3 linked regions of the Homo sapiens genome follow. The protein of the gene in region 3 interacts with the protein of the main gene of each other region in a biochemical or structural test. Each region holds a gene or a part of one and is shown on either strand. Other genes may lie near its edges.

Region 1 (7,030 bases), on a different chromosome or scaffold from region 3:
GCTGGAAGCCAGCAGGACATGAGACCCCTCCTGTAGCAGGAAGTGGTTCTAGAACTCCCAGCAGAACAGAACGGAAAAGGAGCTGATTGGGGATAGAATGAGTTCTGCTAAACAGCCAGATGCTCTGAGAGAGGTGACACTGGACTGTCTCGGAGGTGTGTGCAGATGGCTACAGGTGGCCAATCGTGGGGGTCCCCAGGGTGGGATCCCAAAGCTGCTCTAAAGAGTCTCAGAGAGCCCCAGCGTGACTCAGTTCCCCTCCTGGGGCCGCAATGGCTGTTTCTGCTCCCAGAAAGGCAAATGGATCTTGTAAAAATCCATGGTGGTTGATGCCATTTTTTTCATAAAAAAAAGTTTATACAGTGAATCGCTTTCCACCAGCAGAGCCTGAGCCGAGAAGAGTCCATCCTGGGGAAGGAGAAGGCACTTCTCACACCCTCATTAGGGGTGTTCTGGGCTGGCAGCTTCCCCGGCCCCTCGGGTTCCAGCTCCCTCTGGCCCTGTGGTTCCGGCCTGCTCCCTCTGGGAAGCATGCTGACTGTGTCAAGCTAGCACCGCCCTGTGGCCCGAATGCCCTGGTGCCTCACAGGGTGGTGGATGGCAACTTCCTCACTCGCCGCTGGGCCAGGATGGATGACTCGATGGGCTTCAGCTGGGGGGTGGGCTTGGAGCTGTTGAGTGCGGAGTACGTGGCAGCCATGGCTCCCTGAAAGAGAAGTGGGGAGGTCAGGTCACAATGGTGGGAGATGTAGCGGGGAGGGGATCCATGCCCCAAGGGTAGGCCAGCCCCTCTCAGTGTTCCACAGCCCACTTTTTTTGGTTTTGTTTTTGTTGTTTTTTTTTTTTTGAGATACAGTCTCACTCTGTCACCCAGGCTGGAACGCAATGGCACAATCTTGGCTCACTGCAACCTCTGCCCCCAGGGTTCAAGCGATTCTCCTGTCTCAGCCTCCCAAATGGCTGGGATTACAGGCGCTTGCCACCACACCTGGCTAATTTTTGTATTTTTAGTAGAGATGGGGTTTCACCATCTTGGTCAGGCTGGTCTTGAACTCCTGACCTCGTGATCCACCCACCTCAGCCTCCCAAAGTGCTGGGATTACAGGTGTGAGCCACCGCGCCCAGCCTAGCCCACTGTTAATCCAGCCTCAGTGGTCCTTTATGGTCATGGGTCCTGCCTCCCCCATCAGACTGGAGGGTTCAGAGGTCAGCAGCTGTGCCTTCCAGAGGATTGGGGGCTGTGAGTGCACCGTGACACTGTAGCATGTTAGGCTCCCTGACGGCAGGGCTGTGTCTTCTTCTCCTATGTTCCACCTCATGGTGCTTGGTACAGACATGGCATTGCCTGGCTCTTCCACAAGTCCCTGACCATGCCACCTTGGGCTGACCCCCCAGATGCCCAGCAGCCCAAGGGTGGCCATACCTTCACAAGCTGTAGGTCCTGGTGGGACAGCTGGCTTTGGGGAAGCTTGTCTTTCTGGGTGACCCATGGATGCTGCAGAACCTGCTTAGCTGTGAGGCGCTGGTGGGGATCCACGTGTAGCATCTTGGACACCAGGTCCTGGGGACACAGTGGGCAAGGGGGTTGGGGGAGGGCTGCAGGGGAGCAGGCCCCTGATGGGGCACAGGAGGGCAACCATCTCCTGCTAGCTCCCGCCTGAACCCTTGCGGCAGCCCCTGGGATCCATTCTCCACTCTGCTCCAGGGCTCCCCGCACACAGCCAAGGTTCCTGTCGCTGGGCCTTTGCTGCTCTAGGCCCTTCGTCCTGGAACACCCTTCCATTTCTCCTTTGCCTTCAAAAAGCCATGTGGGAAGGTGGGAAAAGCCTCAGGTTTGGGCTCAGACAGATTCAGGTTCAAAACTTGCCTTCTGCACTCATCAAATGAGTGCCCTGGGCAAGTTCCTTCAACTCTCTGAGCCTCAGTTTCCCTGCTGAGAAATAGGAATAACCACTCCCTGCCTCACAGGTTGATGTGAGGTGGCCGGCCGTACATAGAGGGTTCAACTCTGTCTGGCATACAGGTTCCCAATGACCAAAAACTGTTGCTAATACTGAAAGCTCACATGCTACTTCCTCCGAGGAGGCTCTGCTTGGCATGGCCAGTTGCTCTGCTCTGTGTCTCCACGGTCCACACCCCTGGCCAAGAGCGTCCGCCTATCTGTGCCTCCAGGCATCTCTGCCCCTTGTGTGCAAACCTGTATCCCTCACTACACTACGTTTCCACAAAGCCGGGACTGTGATGATGCAGCCCTCAGTGCCCCACAGGGTCCAGAATGAGAAGGGCCAATGAATGATCACCAGGTTACCCCAACAAGGTACGGAGGTGGTGGTGGTCTGCCTGGGAATCTTCCGCTTGGAGAAATACAGCAACAGGGATTTGTGGAACATCCGCTTGGAGAAATGAGGCTGTTCATGAACTGCTGAAAAGCCCTAGGATGGGACCCTGCCTCCCTCCTCCAAATAAGCCCACGCAGGCCGTACAGACTCACCTTGGCTGTCTCTGAAACTGTGTTCCAATTTCCCCCACTGAGGGTAAACTTCCCACTGCCGATCCGGGTTAGGATTTCCTCTGGTGTGTCACTGGGACCGTTGGCAAATGGAGTATATCTGCAGAAAAGCCCGCACGGTCTGGGTACAGACTCTGGCCTCCATACTGGGGCTGGGGCTGCGGTGGGAGACTGTGTCTCCCCCTCAGATGGGGTACTCCCAAGGTAGAGCTCCTGGAGGCAGGAGCATGTCCCTATTTCCAGACCATCCTGGGGCGGGGCTGGCTGAGCCATTCCTATCAGACAAGCACCACTCAGCCCAAGTGCTAGGGCTGCAGGAGTGGGGAAGGGTCCAGGCCAGGGGCACTCACCCTGCCAGCATGGTGTACAGCAGAATGCCCAGGCTCCAGATGTCGCAGCCTTCATCGTAGCCCTGGCGCTTCAGCACCTGGCAACAGGGCAGGGGAGGTGGTCAGTCTGGGGGGGCAGTAGAAAGTCGCCACAGATGTTTCCTGCTACTCCCCTCAAGGGCAGGACAAGGGTCCCAGGCACAGGCTAGATCTTCCCTTGCCAGCTGGGCCAAGGTCACAGAGACTGGAGTCCCGGCTAATGTGGGGCCTCTGGGAGGGGGCACAAGGCCTCCAATTCCCCCTCACTCTTACAGCTGAGGAGGCTGGGCCACTCACCTCAGGCGCCACAAAGTTGGCTGTGTAGCAAGGTGTCATGAGGAGCCCATTCTCAGCCCGCAGCTGTTTGGCAAAACCAAAGTCACAGATGCGCAGGCACTCGGGATTCCCGGACTCGTCCACATACAGGATGTTGCTGGGCTTCAGGTCCCTGTGCACAACCTAGGGGCAGGGGGCTGGGGTCAGTTCTCAGTGTGGGGAGGTGGCTAGTGGCCCAGGTCAGCGGCCAGAGATTAGAAAGCTACACAGACAGGGTGCAGAGGGACGGGTGCATGGACTTGGCATCCGAGAGAAGGGGAAGGGGCTGAAATGATGGTCTTATTGCTGCTGCTACTGACTCTGTGTAGGTGTCTACAGGTAGCTCTAAGTTAACCTGTCAAAACTGAACTCTCAATTCTCCCCTAAAACCTACTCATCACATAATCTTACCTTGTGGCAACTCCATCCTTCCTGTTACTTAGGTCAAAATCTTAAAAGTCTTTTTTTTTTGAGATGGAGTCTTCCTCTGTCACCCAGGCTGGAGTGCAGTGGCACGACCTCAGATCACTGCAGCCTCCGCCTCCCGGGTTCAAGCAATTCTCCTGCCTCAGCTCCCAAGTAGCTGGGATTACAGGCACCCGCCGCCATGGCTGGCTGATTTTTGTATTTTTAGTAGAGATGGGGTTTCACCATGTTGGTCAGGCTGGTCTCAAACTCCTGACCTCAAGTGATCTGCCTGCCTCGGCCTCCCAAAGTGCTGGGATTACAGGCGTGAGCCACCACGCCTGGCCCTATTTTCCTTATCTTTAAAATCAAAGAATACACTGCTTTACTTTTATCTGTAGCACTTCCCACTACTTAACATAATATTTAATTTGTTTTCTGAGTCTGCCCACCGGCATGTAAGCTCCCTGAGTGTTTTGCTCACTGCTGTATCCCAGCACTTAAACTAGCTCCTAGTACATGGCAGGTATTCAATAAATATCTGTTGAATGAATGGATGAATGACACTTACTGCTGAGGCCATAAGCAAACGGCTTTCCTCTGGGCCCTGTTTGCTCATCTGTAACTTGAGGGGGCTGAACCACCCCACATTTCATTCTTCTCCTCCCCACACTCTGTAAGGCTTTTTTGTTTTGTTTTGTTTTGAGACAGGGTCTGTGTTGCCCAGGCTGGAGTACAGCAGCATGATTCATGGCTCACTGCAGCCTCAATCTCTGAGCTCAAGTGATCCTCCCACCTCGACCTCGCAAGCAGCTGGGACTAGAGGCATGTGCCACCATACCCAGCTAATTTTTAAAACATTTTTTGCAGAGACAGGGTCTCGCTATGTTGCCCAGGCTGCTCTTGAACCCCTGGGCTCAAGTGATCCTCCTGCCTGGGCCTCTCAAAGTGCTGGGATTAAAGGTGTGAGTAACTGTGCCTGGCCTGTACAGTTCCATTCATAGTCAATCCTCTAACTATCAACTACCAATACCTCTCAGATCTCTAACCCTAGTCCAGAACTTTTCCTGAGTCTTGGCTCATAAATCCAACTGCCTACCACAAGGCAACCACTGGATGTTCCACAGAGCCTCAAACTCAACACATCCCACACTAAACTCCTCATGTTCTCATCTTCCTGCTCCTCCTCCCCTAAGCTAATGGAACCTCCCTGGGCATTGTCAAAAAACCTTCAAAGGCTCCCTACCTGCAAGATAAAGCCCAAAGTCCCTACCCTAACATGGGAGGCACAGCCATCATCTGTTCCAGCCTCACTGTCCATTGCATCCCTCAGGTGCCCTGAGCTCAGGCCACCAGGGGCTCCTTCGGTAACGATCATAACCCTATGTCTGTGGAATGCCCGTTCACCTTCAGCACCCAGTGCAGGGCCTAGCACAGAGCAAATGCTAAGTGAACTTTGTGCAATGAATGAACAAATCACACCTCTGAAACACAGAGACAGATACCTTGCAGGTTAGATTAGTAGAGTTTTGCAGGTTAGTTGGTTTTATTCAGATAGTCTTTTCATAGTCTCAGTTGATCTCCAAGCCCTCCAGCAATGCCCGTGGAGCCCGTGGAGTAGGTAGACATGGCCCAGCACAGTCCACCTCCATAGGGAGAAGAGTGCCAGGTAGATGAGGGGGAAAGGGCCACACTGTTAGGGTAGCCCCAGCAACACACTGTATCCAAGCCTTGGAGAAAGTCCCGTGGGCTCCCTCCTTCAAACACAATCGTATGCCCACAGCACAAGGCCAGGCCCCCAGGAATGTGGACTCTACCTAGAGGTCAGGGATGCTCAGCTTGGCTGAGGACACCAACTACCCTGCACAAGTGAACTTCCAGTTTACAAAGAATGTTACCAGTCGTGATCTCACTGGAGCCATCCACTGCACCTCGGCGGGTGGACAGGAATTATTAGCTCCATTTTACAGAGGAGAAAACCAAAGCTCTGAGAGGACAATTTTCTTTTTTTTTTTTTTGAGATGGAGTCTCGCCAGCAGCACAATCTTGGATCACTGCAACCTCCGTCTCCCAGGTTCAAGCAATTCTCATATCTCAGCTTCCCAGTTAGCTGGAATTACAGGTGTGCACCACCATGCCTGGCTAATTTTTGTATTATAGAAACAGGGTTTCACCCTGTTGGCTAGGCTGGTTTTAAACTCTGGCCTCAAGTGATCTTCCCACCTTGGCCTCCCAAAGTGCTGGGATTACAGGTGTGAGCCACTACGCCCAGCCTGAGAGGACAACTCACTTGCATGTAGGTTAGAGGCAGAGGCAAGACCAGAACCCAGTTCTGACCTGAATTCCATAGTCTTTCCAGTTTAGTGTGGCACACATGACACTACTGGGACACAGGGATATGGAAGTTGACCTTTTTTTTAAATTAATTTATTTTTCTGAGATGGAGTTTTGCTTTTGTTGCCCAGGCTGGAGTGCAATGGCGTGATCTCGGCTCAGTGCAACCTCTGCCTCCCAGGCTCAAGCAATTCTCCTGCCTCAGCCTCCCAAGGAGCTGGTATTACAGGCATCTGCTACCATGCCCAGCTAATTCTTTGTATTTTTAATAGAGATGGGGTTTCATCATGTTGGCCAGGCTGGTCTCGAACTGCTGACCTCAGGCAATCCACCTGCCTCAGCCTCCCAAAGTGCTGGGATTACAGGCGTGAGCCACCACGCCCGGCTCAAGTTGTTGATCTTTTTTCCTACCCTAATACAACATAGAGAAACTACAAATTCCTATAGGAAACTGTCTCACCACTGCCAGTGGCAGAATAGTAGGGATGGTGAGTGGGGGAGGGGAAGTACAGCTTTAAAAAGCCCCACAGGTGATTCTGATACCTGACCCTCAGGAGTGTATGTTGGGGGAGGAAAAGTATAGTCTCACATCTCACCGCATGGAAAATCACAACAGGCTGGGCAAGTAATGAGTGAAGCCAGGCAGAGTGGGAACCTCCAAGCAGTCCACAGAGGACAGCAGCTACCTGGCTCCAGCTGACAGTCACTACATAGCAACTCGGACCCAGTGTTTTTAAAAGCAGCCAAATTACCAAACCTTACTAAACCATACCTCAAATCAAAAAACACCCCTTATCTTGCAGGCCAAACAAAATATATGTGTAGGCCAAATGCAGGCACTGGAGCAATAGGCCGTGACCTCCAGGAGAGTTGGGATTCCAGTCACAGGAAGGAGTCGGGCAGGCCAGGGTGTGAATCCTGGCTTTACTATCCACTCACAGCTGTGTGGTTTTGGGCACGACATTTAACATCTGTAGCCCTCAGTTTCCTCACTTGTAAAATGGGGCTGATAATAGTATTCAACCCCAGGCTTATAGAGAAGGACAGGAATATTTAGCAAAGGGCTTGGGAAATGATGGACATCACAGTAACCCCAGAA
Region 2 (7,030 bases), on a different chromosome or scaffold from region 3:
ACCCGAGATCGCGCCACTGCACTCCAGCCTGGGCAACAAGAGTGAAACTCCGTCTCAAAAAAATAAATTAAAAAATAAAGTCGTCAGCCTTATCTTTTCGCCTTCTTTGTCCCAACTTCTCCTTTCACTCTTTCACGCTGTCTTTTGAGCTGGGTAAAGCTGAAGCTGACAGTTTGAGTGGGAAACAGTCACTCCATTTTTCACAGAGCCCTACAGTCTTAGTACATTCCCTCTATTCACATCTCCCCCACCTTCTCTGCAATTGCACACCTCCCATGACAGGGCTCTCACCACCTCACCTGTGGCCCATTTCATTCTTAGCCAGCTTAGAATCTTCAGAGGGCAGACTATTGAGAATTGTTAATTACACTGAGTACAGTTTATCTCACTGTATTCTCTGCTTATTGGTCTTGCTTCTATCCACCAACCACCCTCTCCCCAAATACAGGACATCTTTCTAGTTATTGTTCTGATCCCCCCCAATCTGGAAACAAACAAAAGTCCCTACTAATTTAGAGCCAGGCACTCTGCTAAATGAGATGATCTGGAGATTTTGTTTCATCCTCACGACCACCCTGTGAGGGGGGTACACTCATTATTCCCATTTTACAGAGGAGAATGATGAGTCTCAGAGACTTTTGGTAACTTTCCCAAGGTCACACAATAAGTAAGATGCAAAGGAACGGGAATGCAAACTCAGGCCGGCCTGACTCCAAAGCCTATATTCTTTCTTTTTTTTAGAGACAGGGTCTCGCTCTGTTGCCCACGCTGGAGTACAGTGGTGTGGTGGCATGATCATAGCTCACAGCTCACTATAGCCTCAAACTCCTGGGCTCAAGTGATCCTCCCGCCTCAGCCTCCTGAGTAGCTGGGACTACAGGTGCGCATCACCACAACTGCCAAAACCTGAATTCTTGCCCGTCATGCCAGACTGTCTGTCTCCTGACCAGAAACAGTTCTGTCCATCTGTCCACAGAGAAACGTTCTCCCTCTAATGGCGTCCATACGGAATCCAGGATCTCAGGGATGAGAAGATCCTCAGGGATCTGGGTCCCGCCTCTGCTCTGACTGAGGGGCAGTGTATGCGGGAGGCCTGCCCCGGGTCACCAATAATTTTAAAGTCGAGCTAGGGATAGAACCCAGGACTAGGGATAGAACTCCACAATTTCGCTGCAGAGGCTGAGGGTGAGCACACAAGGCTGAGGAGAGAGTTTTTGCTTAGGAAAGCCAGGGTCTGGCAGGGGCAGTGCTCCTGCGGGATACAGCATCCAGGCAATCAGCCCAGGTGTGTGGCCGGCTCTGCCACAGGCCTGCTGTGCACAGGGTCCAGGCCTGCCCCTGTGGGGGCCCCAGCACCCCCTTCCACTGTTTGCAGAGGGCCAGGGCCTCTGTAGCTGCAGAGTTCCAGGCCTCCACCATCCTGCTGCTGCCCTCCCCATCCCCACCCCCCAGAGCCTCATCTCCGGCCGGTGCCATGGCAACAGGGAGTGCCAGGCCCTTGGCAGCCAAAGGAGCCCCTGAGAGGGGTCCCAGGCTGAGACTGAGGAGGGGGGTGCGGCAGGCGCAGACAAGCAAACCTTCTGTTCCCCGGGCTGCTGCCAGCCCGGAGCAGCCATGGGCTGGGGTGGGGGCCGCAAATAGAATGGGTTCTCAGAGCCAAGTGGGCAGGGGACAGGCAGGCCTTGGGCCATTCACACTGACCCACCAGCACACAGCCTTCCCCCACAGGCCCAGGGCCTGCAAATAGGGGAGGGGTAGCTAGCTAATGAGTAAACCCTTCACTTATCAGTGCCAATTACCAAACATTGAGATTCCCCTCAGAGCCCTCCTGGGCGGCAGAGCAGGAGGGCAGAGAACCCCCATGTTTCACTGACCCTCTCACTGTCTCAGCATCTGTCCTCCCACCCCTGTCTTCGGTCATTCACTTAACCACCCCTCTGTGCCTCAGTTTTCTCATCTGTAGATTGGGGCTCATCACTGGGTTGTCAGGGCTATTGAAGGAGTTAACACAAGCAAAATGCTTAGAATAGGGCCTGGCACACAGCCCTCTGCAAAGTTGGTGGCCACATTATTATTATTCATTCACTCAAGGGAGAAGAAGTCACTCACTCACTCGGCCTTGCGCGCACAGCCAAGACTCCACGGGACTAGGCTTCTCAGCAAAGTGATGCATGTGATAAATGAGACGGTGCAAGAAGGCCTCTCCCAAAAGACGCTCCTCAGGAAGAGGTAGCTGCTGATTATTGGTACAATCAGTAGCAACAGCCCTTTTCAGTGTCCTGAGGCTCAGTGAGGAGTGTCTCATCCTAGCACACTCGGCGATTCGGTGGCCAACCTAAGGCCAGACCCATCTAATCACCACTGTCTGTCAATTACTTCTTTCCTGAACTTTTGTCTTAGTCCTTTAATATGACTTCCCACAAATCAGGATACCTACCTAACAACGATCTGGACTCTCTTCAACTTCCTAATATGGAATTAGGCCTACAGTAGGTGCTCAGTAAACGCTTACACGATATGAGAGATTAAATGGCTCTGTAGGGTCAGCTCTTCAGTCCTGGGCCCTCGGCTGCCTCCTAATAACACAGGATTCACTAGGCTAGGGAACTGGCATGGATAGGCAATGGTGACTCTTTCCTTCCAGGGAGGTGATGGAGATGAGCTGGTGAGGGCAGAACAGACATATGGCACTCTGAAGCCAACAGGCTGCGCCTGATGCCATCCAGGGCAGGGATGGGAGCCCCGCCAGGCTGGGAGCAGTGGTTCCAGCTGGAAGCCACTTATTCCTGGGTCCAAGCCCCAGTTCTCTGAGTTTAACTTATCTGAGTCCCAATTTCCTGGGAAATGGCATGGGAGACCTCCTTTTCCATTTCTGGGAGGGCCAGAGATGATGACGCACAGCACTTGGCACATCATAGGTGCCCAGTAAATGGTGACTAACAACAGTATATGATTACTCCAGTGGGGAGAGCGGGTATGGCTTCCTGAGGGAGGTGGCCTTGAGCTAGGCCTCCAGGGTTTCTTGAGTTTTTTGGCAGATGATGCCAGGGAAAGGTATGGCCAGGGCTCTGTGAGAGATGAAAGGCATCTGGGAGAAATGGCAGGGAGAGATCTGTTGGGCTAGAAACTGGGGCTCTTCAGCAAACAGGTAGGTGATGGCCTGGGAAGGAGGCAGCAGGAGGCCAGGGAAGGAGGCAGGGAGACTTCAGGAAAGGTCTGCGGTGCTGTGTGAGGATTTTCTCTGGACCACCAACTTTTCAAGGTGTTGATAGTGATGGCGGGTAGTAGCTGCTGGCTTGGCAGGGCAATGCTGTAACTCCAGGCACTGTGGGGAGGGGGCCTCCATGCAGGAGGATGACACCAGCAGGCTGGCATTTAGTGGGAGGCTGTGGATTAGGATGGGGACAGTGGAGGCTGCAAGGCCAGTGTTGGGGATGAAGCCGTCCCAAACTCAGCCTGAACTCCCTGGCAGGACAAGCTACATAATTTGTGGGGCAAGCACAAAATGGAAATGCAGGGCTCTTTGTTAAAAATTATTAACAATTTCAAAATGATGACTGCAGAGCATTAAACCAAACATAGGCCCTTCTAAGCATGGGGCCCTCAGGAGGATGAGTACTCATGAAGCCATCTCTGTGCCCTGGACTAAAGGGGAGGCCATCTGTCTGTCTCCATCGATTTATCCATCCATCCATCCATCCATCCACCCACCCACCAATCCATTTATGCATCTCTACATGCATTTATTTATCTAGTGATTATTTCACTATCCATTCAGCAGATAGGCCCTGGGTTGGACACTGATAAGGACACAAATACAGGTGAGATGGGAGCCACCCACAGTCCACCAGGTCAAACCTGCACCTTTACCTTCAATGCTCTGGGCCAGGAGGGGCCAGGGCTTCTGTGACATGTTTAGAAAGCTGAGCCCTACCCCTCTAAGGCTAACTGGAAACCCTGCCCCACCCTATAACCACTGAGGCTCAGCCTCAGAAGTGAAGAAGCTGGTGGTGTCACTGCCCTTGGGTTTCCACTTCTCAGAAGGGAAGGTAACAGAGCAGCAGCAATGAGGATGTGGCAAAACAGTCACAAGAAGCATGGTAGGAACTCTCAGGGGCTAAGGGCAGAGCTGGATGGACCTCTGGGGGCCACTAAACTTCTCCCTTGGCTTCTCCCCACTTTATTATAAGAGGAAACTATGATTAGAATGAAGAAGTGGTATGGCCAAAAGCTCGGGGGTCCAGCAAACCACCCAGGAAGATTCCCATTTCTTGTTGGGACGGCTTTGCTCCTTTTCAGCCCATAGCCCAGACAGACCTGGAGGCTGAGCCCTGAACCACAGAGGTGGAGCTGGGTCTCTCCAGGCCTTCAGAGAGATGGTAAAGACCCAGCACCTGTGGTGGAACAAAGGCGAGCCCAGGTCCCAGGCTCAGCGTCATCACCAATGATCTGTACGGACCTTAGGTGCAACCCTTCCCCTCTCTGGACCTTAGTTCCCATCCATACAATAAAGCAGTTGGATCAGGTGACCCCCAAAAGTCCTTTTCATCTCTGACATTCAGGAACTTTCAGACCCCCTGACCCTCCCAAGGGACAGCCCTCTCCATCACAGGGCGGAGAAGCTGGTACCTCTGGCAGATAAAAGGTTTCAGGCACCTGAGACATCAAATAGCCCTGATCTGAATTGAGGAGAGGAGGGGATTTTAATGCGGTTAAAGCAGTACACTTTGATTTTCAGCCTCCTGCACCAGGCTGGGGGTGGGCTACCCCAGGAAGCATCTGGTGGATGTAGGGGGCGGGGGCAGGGTGGGCTCTGGGGCTAAGGCTTGGAGGTTCAGGAAGACTTTATCCTGAGGATCTGGGCCTGAGGGCTCAGGAGGGATGTGAAGTGGGCTTCCACACTGGAAGCAACAAGCATGGGAATTTCACACCCACTCCCACCAGAGGTAGGTCCCTGTGTCCATTCCCCCCCTCACCTCTGGATCCCATCACTCATCTGGGCCAAAGCCTTGCTTCCTCTTGAAATTAGAGCATATGAGGTTTGAAAACGCAGCACTGGAAGAGACCTAAAGGGTTACAGCATCCACACACAGCCCCTAGTGGGCCTTCCTCCCCGACCCTCCCTGCTCAGTATCTCAGGAAAATGGGCATGTGGGAACTGTAGGAGCCCTCTGAGCTCCTCAAGAAACTGAGCACGTTAAGGGGCCACACTAATTGTCAGAAAGTTCCTCATTGTTATTGCAGGTTAAAGTTTTCCATTAGTGGTCATCGATCCTGACCTCTTTCTGTAATGTGTAGAAAAAGGGTAAGAAAAAAACCCTTTCATTGTGAAATTAAATATGCATGATCCCTGAGTACACAGCAAGGCTTGTGCAGCTGCCAATCTGGGCTGGCATGGCTTGGAATCCTGAAATTGTTTTAGGGCTGGAAGAAAGATTTACCATCATCTGGGTCAACCTCCTCGTTTGACTGATGGGAAAACTGAGGCCCCAGAAGGGAACGATCTGTGCACAGTCCCATAGGGTTCTAGGGTCTGATGACTACCTCTGGAATGCTGAGGGCCCCCACAGCTGAGGCACATTCTCAGGGTTTACACTGGATCCCCAGGGGCATCCCAGGCCCCATCCAGCCTCTCATCAAGGGGATCTGGAGTCAGAAACACCCAGGTGCAAATCCCAGCTCCGCCACTTCCGAGCTGTGGGACTTTAGGCAACTGACTCTGCGCACTTTCTCACCTGTAAAATGGGGAGAGTTTAGCTGGGTGCGGTGGCTCACGCCTGTAATCCCAGCACTTTGGGAGTCTGAGGCAGGCGGATCACTTGAGGTCAGGTAGTTCGAGACCAGCCTGGCCAACACGGTGAAACCCCATCTGTACTAAAAATATAAAAATTAGCTGGGCATGGTGGCGCACACGCCTGTAATCCCAGCTACTTGGGAGGCTGAGGCAGGAGAATCACTTGAGCTTGGGAAGCGGAGGTTGCGGTGAGCCAAGATCATACCATTGCACTCCAGCCTGGGCAACAGAGTGAGACTCCATCTCAAAAAAAAAAAAAAAAAAAAGTGGGGAGAGTTTATATATCTAATTTTGAGGTTGCTGTGACGGTTTATTTATTTATTTATTTATTTTTTTTGAGACAGTCTTGCCCTGTCGCTTAGGCTCACTGCAATCTCCGCCTCCTGGATTCAAGCAATTCTAGTGCCTCAGCCTCCTGAGTAGCTGGGATACAGGTGCGCACCACCACGTCTGGCTAATTTTTGTATTTTTAGTAGAGACAGGGTTTCACCATGTTGGCCAGGCTGGTCTCAAACTCCAGACCTCGGGTGATCCACCCGCCTCGGCCTCCCAAAGTGCTGGGATTACATGTGTGAGCCACCGTGCCCAGCCTCGATGGTTAAATTAATCCAGTAAATATTTACTAAGAATGTCCTGAATGCCCAGCATGTTCCAAGTGCTGAGGAATACAGCAGCAACTTTGAGGTAACAGATGTAAAGCACAATTGAAGTAGACACAGAAAGTGCTAAGAACGAGTTGGTTCCTGTTATATCATCATGCTCACACTGCTTCCCAGCTGAGGTGCTACAAGCCCTGACCCTGGGAAGGGGCCCAACACCCCTTCCCTTCCCTCCTAACGCTCTGGGTCAGAAGACAGGGGGCACCAAAAAGATTCCCATTCCAAGAACCCACTGCCCACTGGGTTCTGAATCAAATGCAAGAAATGGGTGGGCATTTCAGAAGACCTTTTCATCCCTTTCTCCCTTCCCACTGCATTCAGCAGCAGCCTGTTCTGAGCCAATGCCCAGAGCACCCTCCTTTAGCCTAGAAGGCAGCTGGTCTCAGAGTCAGACTGTGGCCTGTGCCTGGAGGATGGACACGGATCTTTGGAACATACATGGTGTCCAGGTCCCTTCTGTGGGCAGAGCCTTTTGCAGGTTGCAGATTAATTTCACAGCCAAGTGTTCCAATGCAGGAGGCCAGGAGAGCAGTGGTTCTCTCAGCCAGTGGCCAGAGGTCCAGCTGTGAAGTGCAGG
Region 3 (7,030 bases):
CTTTTGGGGCTCCTTTTCTGCCCCAGGGACCATCTTGTTGGCCACTGGGGGCCACTGTTTCTACCCTCAGCCTGTGTTTTAAACTGGGTAGGGTCAGGGCAGCCTGGCCTGTTCCTCTTCTCCAGGATGCTCCAGAGCCACTTGCCCTATCGAGGGGTCACTCTGACAAGCTGCCGCCTCCCCAGCCCCCAGCCTCGTGGCTGAGGAACCCTGGGAAGAGGCATTCCAGGTCTGCGTGTGCGCAGCTCTGTGCCTGTGCTGGGTGTCATCCGTGGCTCTGTCTTTGTCTCTGTTGAAGGCGCCTGCATGCTGGGAAGGCCTGGGAGAGGGCCGGCCTTCTCCACAGGCAGCGCCGTGGTTGGGGAAGCCTAGGAGGCCACTCTGCCAGGCCTGGCGTAGGTGGGGCTGGGAGCATGGGAGTGGAGTTGGGGGTCCAGGAGGCTCCAGGGTGAGCCCACTCCTCCCCCTAGATACAAGGGAGGGCCCTGGGACCCTGTCTGCTGTTCCTCCTGGACTCCTGCTGGGTAGTACTTCCTCCTTCCCCTGCCCTTGCTCCCAGCCAGGAGACCCAGAAAAGTACAGGGGCGGCCTGCTCCACCTCCTGCTAGGTGGCCGACTGGGAGGGGCGGCCTGGCAGGCCTTGGGGACCAGGAGGAACAGCCTGAAGCTGTCTGTCTTATCTTCCTGGAGGCCCTGATGGCATTATCTCCATGTTCTCTCCTACCTTTTTTTTTTTTTTTTTTTCATTTTCAAAGAGAACCCTGGCCGGGTGCGGTGGCTCACGCCTGTAATCCCAACACTTCGGGAGGCTGAGATGGGTGGATCACCTGAGGTCAGGAATTTTGAGACCAGCTTGACTAATGTGGTGAAACCCCCGTCTCTACTAAAAATACAAAAATCAGTTGGGCATGGTGGGGCACGCCTATAGTCCCAGCTACTTGGGAGGCTGAGGCAGGAGAGTCGCTTGAACCCGGCAGGCGGAGGTTTCAGTGAGCCGAGATCCCGCCATAGCACTCCAGCCTAGGCGACAGAGTGAGACTGTCTCAAAAAAAAACAAAAAAAGGAAAAGAAAGAAATCCCTTCAGGGGATATGAGTCCAGGGGTTGGCCAGACCCCACTGTGAGAACCGCGCTTGGGGCAGGGGTGTGGGATCTGGAGTTCTGAGGGTGCAGGGGATATACACATTCACTTTCTCCCTTTCCCAGACGTCACTGCTGAAGCTGGCTGCCCCTAGGAGCTGAGCCCGGGGGGAGCGGCTTGGCAGGGAGACAGCATTCCCTGTGGGGAGCCCAGCCTGGGCGCAGGCCTGCCCGTGGGACCTGTGGGACCCGTTTTGTTCCTGGGGCTTGAGGGCGGGCCACAGTGGTGCTCAGGGCCAAGGTGCCCAGCCCAGGGCTGGTGGGGGGGCTGGCCTTGCAGGGGGGCTGGCTGGTCCTAAGCCCCTGTCTCCAGGCTGAGGGTTGGGGCCTCCCTCTTTCCCAGCCACCTTCCCTCCCCCAGGAGGAAGCTCCCCCTCTGCCTCAGGCGTTTGTCCATTGATTTGGACACAAACGCATGGTTCACCTTCCTGTGGAAAAATCCGGCCCTCGGACTTTATCTGGAGGGTGCAGTGGCCCAGGCACCTTGCCTTGGGTGGGACCTTCCCCCTCTGCTATTTCAGGCTCTGGGGGCTGCAGGAAGCCCTAGGAGGGGCTTCCTCTGGGTGTATTTTTAGAGGAACAAAGGGTGGCCTGAGTGGCAGGTCCCTTTGTGCATGAGTCTGGCTGGGGACAGGGGCTCCAGGAGGTCAGGGGGCACCCAAGGAACAGGGTCTCCCCTTCTCTCTTCTGGCATCAAGACCTGAGGTTTCTTTTTCTTTTTCTTTCTTGGCTCACTACAACCTCCGCTGTCTGGGTTCAAGCGATTCTCTTGCCTCACCCTCCCCAGTAGCTGGGATTACAGGCGCGCACCACCACACCTGACTAATTTTTGTGTTTTTAGTAGAGACGGGGTTTCACCATGTTGCTCAAGCTGGTCTCGAACTCCTGATCTCAGGTGATCTGCCCTCCTCGACCTCCCAAAGTTCTGGGATTACAGGTGTGAGCCACTGTACCCGGCCCCTGAGGTCTGAGGTTTCATTTCTTTCTTTCTTTTTTTTTTTTTTTGAGACGGAGTTTCACTCTGTCGCCCAGGCTGGAGTGCTGTGGTGCGATCTCGGCTCACTGCAAGCTCCGCCTCCTGGGTTCAAGCAATTCTTATGTCTCAGCCTGCTGAGTAGCTGGGATTACAGGCGTGTACCACCACACCTGGCTAATTTTTGTGTTTTTGGTAGAGACAGGGTTTCACCGTGTTGGCCAGGCTGGTCTCAAACTCTTGGGCTCAAGTGATCCGCCTGCCTCAGCCTCCCAAAGTGCTGGGATTACAGGTGTGAGCCCCTGCGCCTGGCTCAGGACCTGAGGTTTCTTCACCTGAGCTCCCAGCATGGGCAGGAAGAGGTGGGCCTCACCTGACCTCCACAGAGCAGGCTCAGATCCTGCCCTTCTCAGCCTGGGTTCAGGGCATGCCTCAGATGGTCAGGGAGCCCAGGAGGGCAAAGCTTACCTTGCGGGGATGGCTCCAGTGGGGGCACTGGTGGCAGAGAGGCAGAGCTCTGGAAGGGATGTGTGTAGTTTGTCTTTGGTGAAGGATGGAGAGGGCCCAACTTTGGGTGCCCCCTGGGAGCTAAGGGTGGCTCTCAGTGTCCTCTGTCCTGGCTGGGGATAGGGGAGGTGGGCAGGGGAGGACACTGATGTGGTTGGCCCCTCCTTTTGGGGGCCGTGAAGGCCTAGTTAGTGATGACTCAGCCCTGGGCCACACCAGGCTGGGGGTGGCCGCAGCTGCAGTGCAGCTGATCCTAGTAGTGACGACAGGGGACAGCCCCCAAACAGAGACGGGGTGGCCAGCGGTGCCAGGCCCTGGAGGTGGTGGCAGACCCTGAGCCCTCTGCCCCCTGCCCCTAGCCCATGTCTCCACCCCCATCTGGAGGGCCTTGGGGGCTAAGAGCAGGTGTGAGGGGTGACAGTTCTGCGGGAGGCGGCTGTGTGGTTGGGGCGCGGTGCCTGCGGGGGCTTCCGGGCTTCCCTGGCTCTTGCTCCTCTGGAGCCTCAACAGGACCGTCCTGTGTTCTGGGGCCGGGACTCCTCCCTGTCCCCTCAGCCCTGGGTCCTGGGGCAGGGCAGGGCCTTCCAGCAGCTTCCTTCCTTCCTTTCTTGGGACGGAAGCCTAGCTGGGTGGGGGGCGCCAGGCTGGAGCCTTCGCAGGGGAGCGGGCTCAGTCATCACCCTGCTCCCCAGAGTGACTCAGCCCCCACGTCCCCACCCATCCCCGGGGAGCCAGGGCCGCAGAGGGAGGTAGATAAGTGGGGTGGCAGCCTGGGTCGGCCAGAGAGTTCAGGCCACCCCGGCCGGACGCCTGCCACTTGCTGTCACTGTGCCGCTGTCATGGCACGCTCCGGGAGTGCCACGCCACCTGCCCGGGCTCCGGGAGCCCCTCCACGGAGCCCACCCCAGAGGCTGGTACAGGTCAGGTGGGGTGGGAGGAAGGGAGGGCTAGGAGGAACCGGCAGCCGCTCAGCCTCCCGGGGTGGAAGGAGGGGACTCCGGGACCTTGATGTAAGCAGGCTGGTCGCTGAGCAACAATGAAGGCCTTTCTCTGCCAGGGCTGGTGCGTCACCATCTGGGGGGGTGCCCAGGGTACCCCCATGCCAGCCTCTTTGTCCGGACACAGGCATGGCTGGGGGACCAGGGATGGTCCAGCTCTGTGCTGGCCGCCGGCAGGGAGGGAGCCTGGAGCCCGTGGGAGCCCGAGGGCCTGGCGGGAGGCGGCAGGAAGTGTGTGCTGAGCCAGGGCAGGGAGGAGGAATGTGAGCTATGAACGCCGCCCGAGCTCCTCGGCTCTCTGGGCCCCCCTTCCCCACGAGCCCATGTGCTGCCAGCAGCCCACCCTGGCCCCTCCATTGCAGCCCCTCCACCTGAGGTTTTAGTGCTGTGCCTGGCGCCACTGGGACCCTGCTGACAATGAAGGGGTTTAGGTTTGATAGGCAGAACTTCTTGCCTTGTAGAGTGAAAGACGGCTGCTTCTGGACAGAGGCAGAGGGGTGGCCAGAATGACCCTGAGAACACTGAGGGGTCCTTGGCCTGGCCTCAGGGCCCCAGACACCCACCAGATCCTGCTTCCTGTCTGGTGCCCTGAGAAACCCTGCCCCGCAGGCCGCTGTGCAGGCGTGGGAAGGGCTGCCGGGCCAGCACTGTGGGGCTGGCCGCATGTGTGGGCTGCTGTGCGTGTTTGCAGGTGTGTGTGGACGTCTTGTGTCTGTGGCTGTGTGATGTGTCTTTGCGGACTGGGCCCATATCACGCTCCCACCTCCTCCACTGAATTGGGCTCCTGTCCCCACGCCTTCCCTGCGTCCCAGGCCAGCCTGGGGGCCGTGCTCCACCTCCCCTCCCGAACTGGACTCCTGTCCCCACGCCTTCCCTCCGTCCCAGGCCAGCCTGGGGGCCGTGCTCCACCTCCCCTCCCGAACTGGACTCCTGTCCCCACGCCTTCCCTCCGTCCCAGGCCAGCCTGGGGGCCGTGCTCCACCTCCCCTCCCGAACTGGACTCCTGTCCCCACGCCTTCCCTCCGTCCCAGGCCAGCCTGGGGGCCGTGCTCCACCTCCCCTCCCGAACTGGGCTCCTGTCCCCACGCCTTCCCTCCGTCCCAGGCCAGCCTGGGGGCCGTGCTCCACCTCCCCTCCCGAACTGGACTCCTGTCCCCACGCCTTCCCTCCGTCCCAGGCCAGCCTGGGGGCCGTGCTCCACCTCCCCTCCCGAACTGGGCTCCTGTCCCCACGCCTTCCCTCCGTCCCAGGCCAGCCTGGGGGCTGTGCTCCACTTCCCCTCCCGAACTGGACTCCTGTCCCCACGCCTTCCCTGCGTCCCAGGCCAGCCTGGGGGCCGTGCTGTGACTGCATCCCTGAGGGGCACTTTGGTGGGCAGGTGTCAGGGTCAGCCTTGAAGCCCCACGCCTGTGCCACCAGGTGTGTCTGGGGGAGGAGTGAGTCTATGTGGTGGGGCCCTGGAGATTTTGGGGGTCTTGCACCCTCTAATTCAGCCCATGTGGCCCAGCTGAGCCCCTGTGGGGCCAGGGAGCCACAGGCTTGTCCCTGGAGTTTCTGGTGTGACGGGCTGGGTGGTGGCCATGCAGAGAGGGTTCAGAGGGTGGGCAGGAGGCTTCAGATGAGGCATCTGGCAGGCTGGACAGGAGAAGGGTGTTCCAGACCAAGGGCAGGTCCTGAGCCCAGGGGACAGAGCACTAGCTGTGTGGAGAAGGACCCCCTTGCTCCCTTGGCGGGGCGGTCCCCCCCGCTGACATGGCCGTTTCTGGTCCATTGGGGTTTGGAGCGAGCTTGAAGGTGGGTGGCTGGAGGGGTTGGGGGTGTCTGAGGCCTGGAGACCTGCCCTCCTGAGGTCTGAGCGCCCCCTTGCCATGCCGCCCCAGCCCTGGCCTGGCCTGGCCTGTGGTCCCTCAGGGACACACAGGGAGGTAGGAGGTGAGGGAAGGGCCCTGGCAGCCCCCAGCCCGCCTGCACAGTCTCCCCTGCGCACGCCCTCAAGCTTGGCGCTCCCTGGAAACCTGAGCTGCCTCCTGCCTGCTCCGGCCACCGCCATGTTTAACTGAGCACGGGCAGCCGCTGGCCACCGCCGCCGCACCCTGGCCCACCCCCTGGCTGGGAGGTGGTCATTGGGCCTGGCCTTGCCTGCATGGTCCCCTGGCCCAGAGCCCTACCGCAGGATGCCAGAGGTAACATGGGGCAGGGCCTGGGATGGTAGCGGGGGGTCCTTCCGGGCACCAGGAGGCCCTCTGTGCCCTGTCCACACTAAGCTCCTGCCCCAGCCCCTGCTTGCTGGGCCCACGGGGGTGGGGCGGCTCATTTTCCTGGAATGTGAAAGCAAACAGAGCCGCCACCGCAGCCAGCCCCACGGAGGCCTCTGGAGAGAAAACAAAACTGCTGGCCTAGGAGCGCCTGCCCCACGCTCTGGAGGAGAGCCCGGGGCAGGGGGACGCACAGGCAGAGCCCTCAGGGACAACCGCCCCAGGAGGCCAACGGCGACAGTTCATCCCACCTGGTGCTTCCTCCCACCCTGCCTGTGCGCCACGCTGGCCTCGAGCCAAAGGAATTCTCCCAGCAACCCGGGAAGGCGGCTGGGCCCGTCGGGGAGGCTTCTGGGTTTGAAAACAGGCTTTGCCCAAGTTCCCACAGCTAAAGCTCTGTCACAGGCAGCCTGGGTGCCCGGAGTGTTTGCCACTGAGACCTGGGCCTGCCCGTGGGGGGCACGGTACCGAGTTTGGGCAGTGGCGGCACCACCGGGGAGTGGCCTCTGGAGGCGGGAGGCTGGAGCAAGAGACTGACCCTGTCCGTTGGGCCTGCAGGATGTCAGTGGGCCCCTGAGGGAGCTGCGCCCTCGGCTCTGCCACCTGCGAAAGGGACCTCAGGGCTATGGGTTCAACCTGCATAGTGACAAGTCCCGGCCCGGCCAGTACATCCGCTCTGTGGACCCGGGCTCACCTGCCGCCCGCTCTGGCCTCCGCGCCCAGGACCGGCTCATTGAGGTACCGGCCCACCAGGGCTGCGGGGTGCCGAGTGCCCCGCACCTGTCCACACTGGGGCCCTGGGTCCTTGCAGGGAGGAGGGAGACGCTGGGAACCTGAGCTGGTGCGCCTCCTGCTGCCTCGGTGGGCGGTGGCTGTGATGAATATTTGATGCCACACCTGGCCACGCGGCGTTGGGGGCTGTCTGGGCCCATGGCGGGGCTGATACATGCTGGTGGCGGCAGGTGAACGGGCAGAATGTGGAGGGACTGCGCCATGCTGAGGTGGTGGCCAGCATCAAGGCACGGGAGGACGAGGCCCGGCTGCTGGTCGTGGACCCCGAGACAGATGAACACTTCAAGCGGCTTCGGGTCACACCCACCGAGGAGCACGTGGAAGGTGGGCCACGGCCCAGGGCACAGGGTGGGTGCGGTGTGGTGG

The links.
Region 1: the proteins of NHERF2 (region 3) and RPS6KA1 interact in a test that uses a peptide from one of them, tested with the Homo sapiens proteins (2 studies listed by BioGRID and IntAct).
Region 2: the proteins of NHERF2 (region 3) and PDGFRB form a complex in vitro, tested with the Homo sapiens proteins (2 studies listed by BioGRID and IntAct, with this or other methods).

The regions. Positions count from the first base shown.
Region 1 is NC_000001.11:26,567,755-26,574,784, reverse strand, and holds part of RPS6KA1 (ribosomal protein S6 kinase alpha-1), read right to left. Parts: intron 3,337-7,030; coding exon 3,175-3,336; intron 2,937-3,174; coding exon 2,860-2,936; intron 2,610-2,859; coding exon 2,492-2,609; intron 1,562-2,491; coding exon 1,424-1,561; intron 707-1,423; coding exon 584-706; 3' UTR 1-583. UniProt on the Homo sapiens protein: Serine/threonine-protein kinase that acts downstream of ERK (MAPK1/ERK2 and MAPK3/ERK1) signaling and mediates mitogenic and stress-induced activation of the transcription factors CREB1, ETV1/ER81 and NR4A1/NUR77, regulates translation through RPS6 and EIF4B phosphorylation, and mediates cellular proliferation, survival, and differentiation by modulating mTOR signaling and repressing pro-apoptotic function of BAD and DAPK1.
Region 2 is NC_000005.10:150,145,822-150,152,851, forward strand, and holds part of PDGFRB (platelet-derived growth factor receptor beta isoform 1 precursor), read right to left. Parts: exon of another isoform or gene 6,518-7,030; intron 1-6,517. UniProt on the Homo sapiens protein: Tyrosine-protein kinase that acts as a cell-surface receptor for homodimeric PDGFB and PDGFD and for heterodimers formed by PDGFA and PDGFB, and plays an essential role in the regulation of embryonic development, cell proliferation, survival, differentiation, chemotaxis and migration.
Region 3 is NC_000016.10:2,029,894-2,036,923, forward strand, and holds part of NHERF2 (Na(+)/H(+) exchange regulatory cofactor NHE-RF2), read left to right. Parts: intron 1-3,400; exon of another isoform or gene 3,401-3,458; coding exon of another isoform or gene 3,459-3,539; intron 3,540-3,695; exon of another isoform or gene 3,696-5,791; coding exon of another isoform or gene 5,792-5,800; intron 5,801-6,430; coding exon 6,431-6,610; intron 6,611-6,834; coding exon 6,835-6,988; intron 6,989-7,030.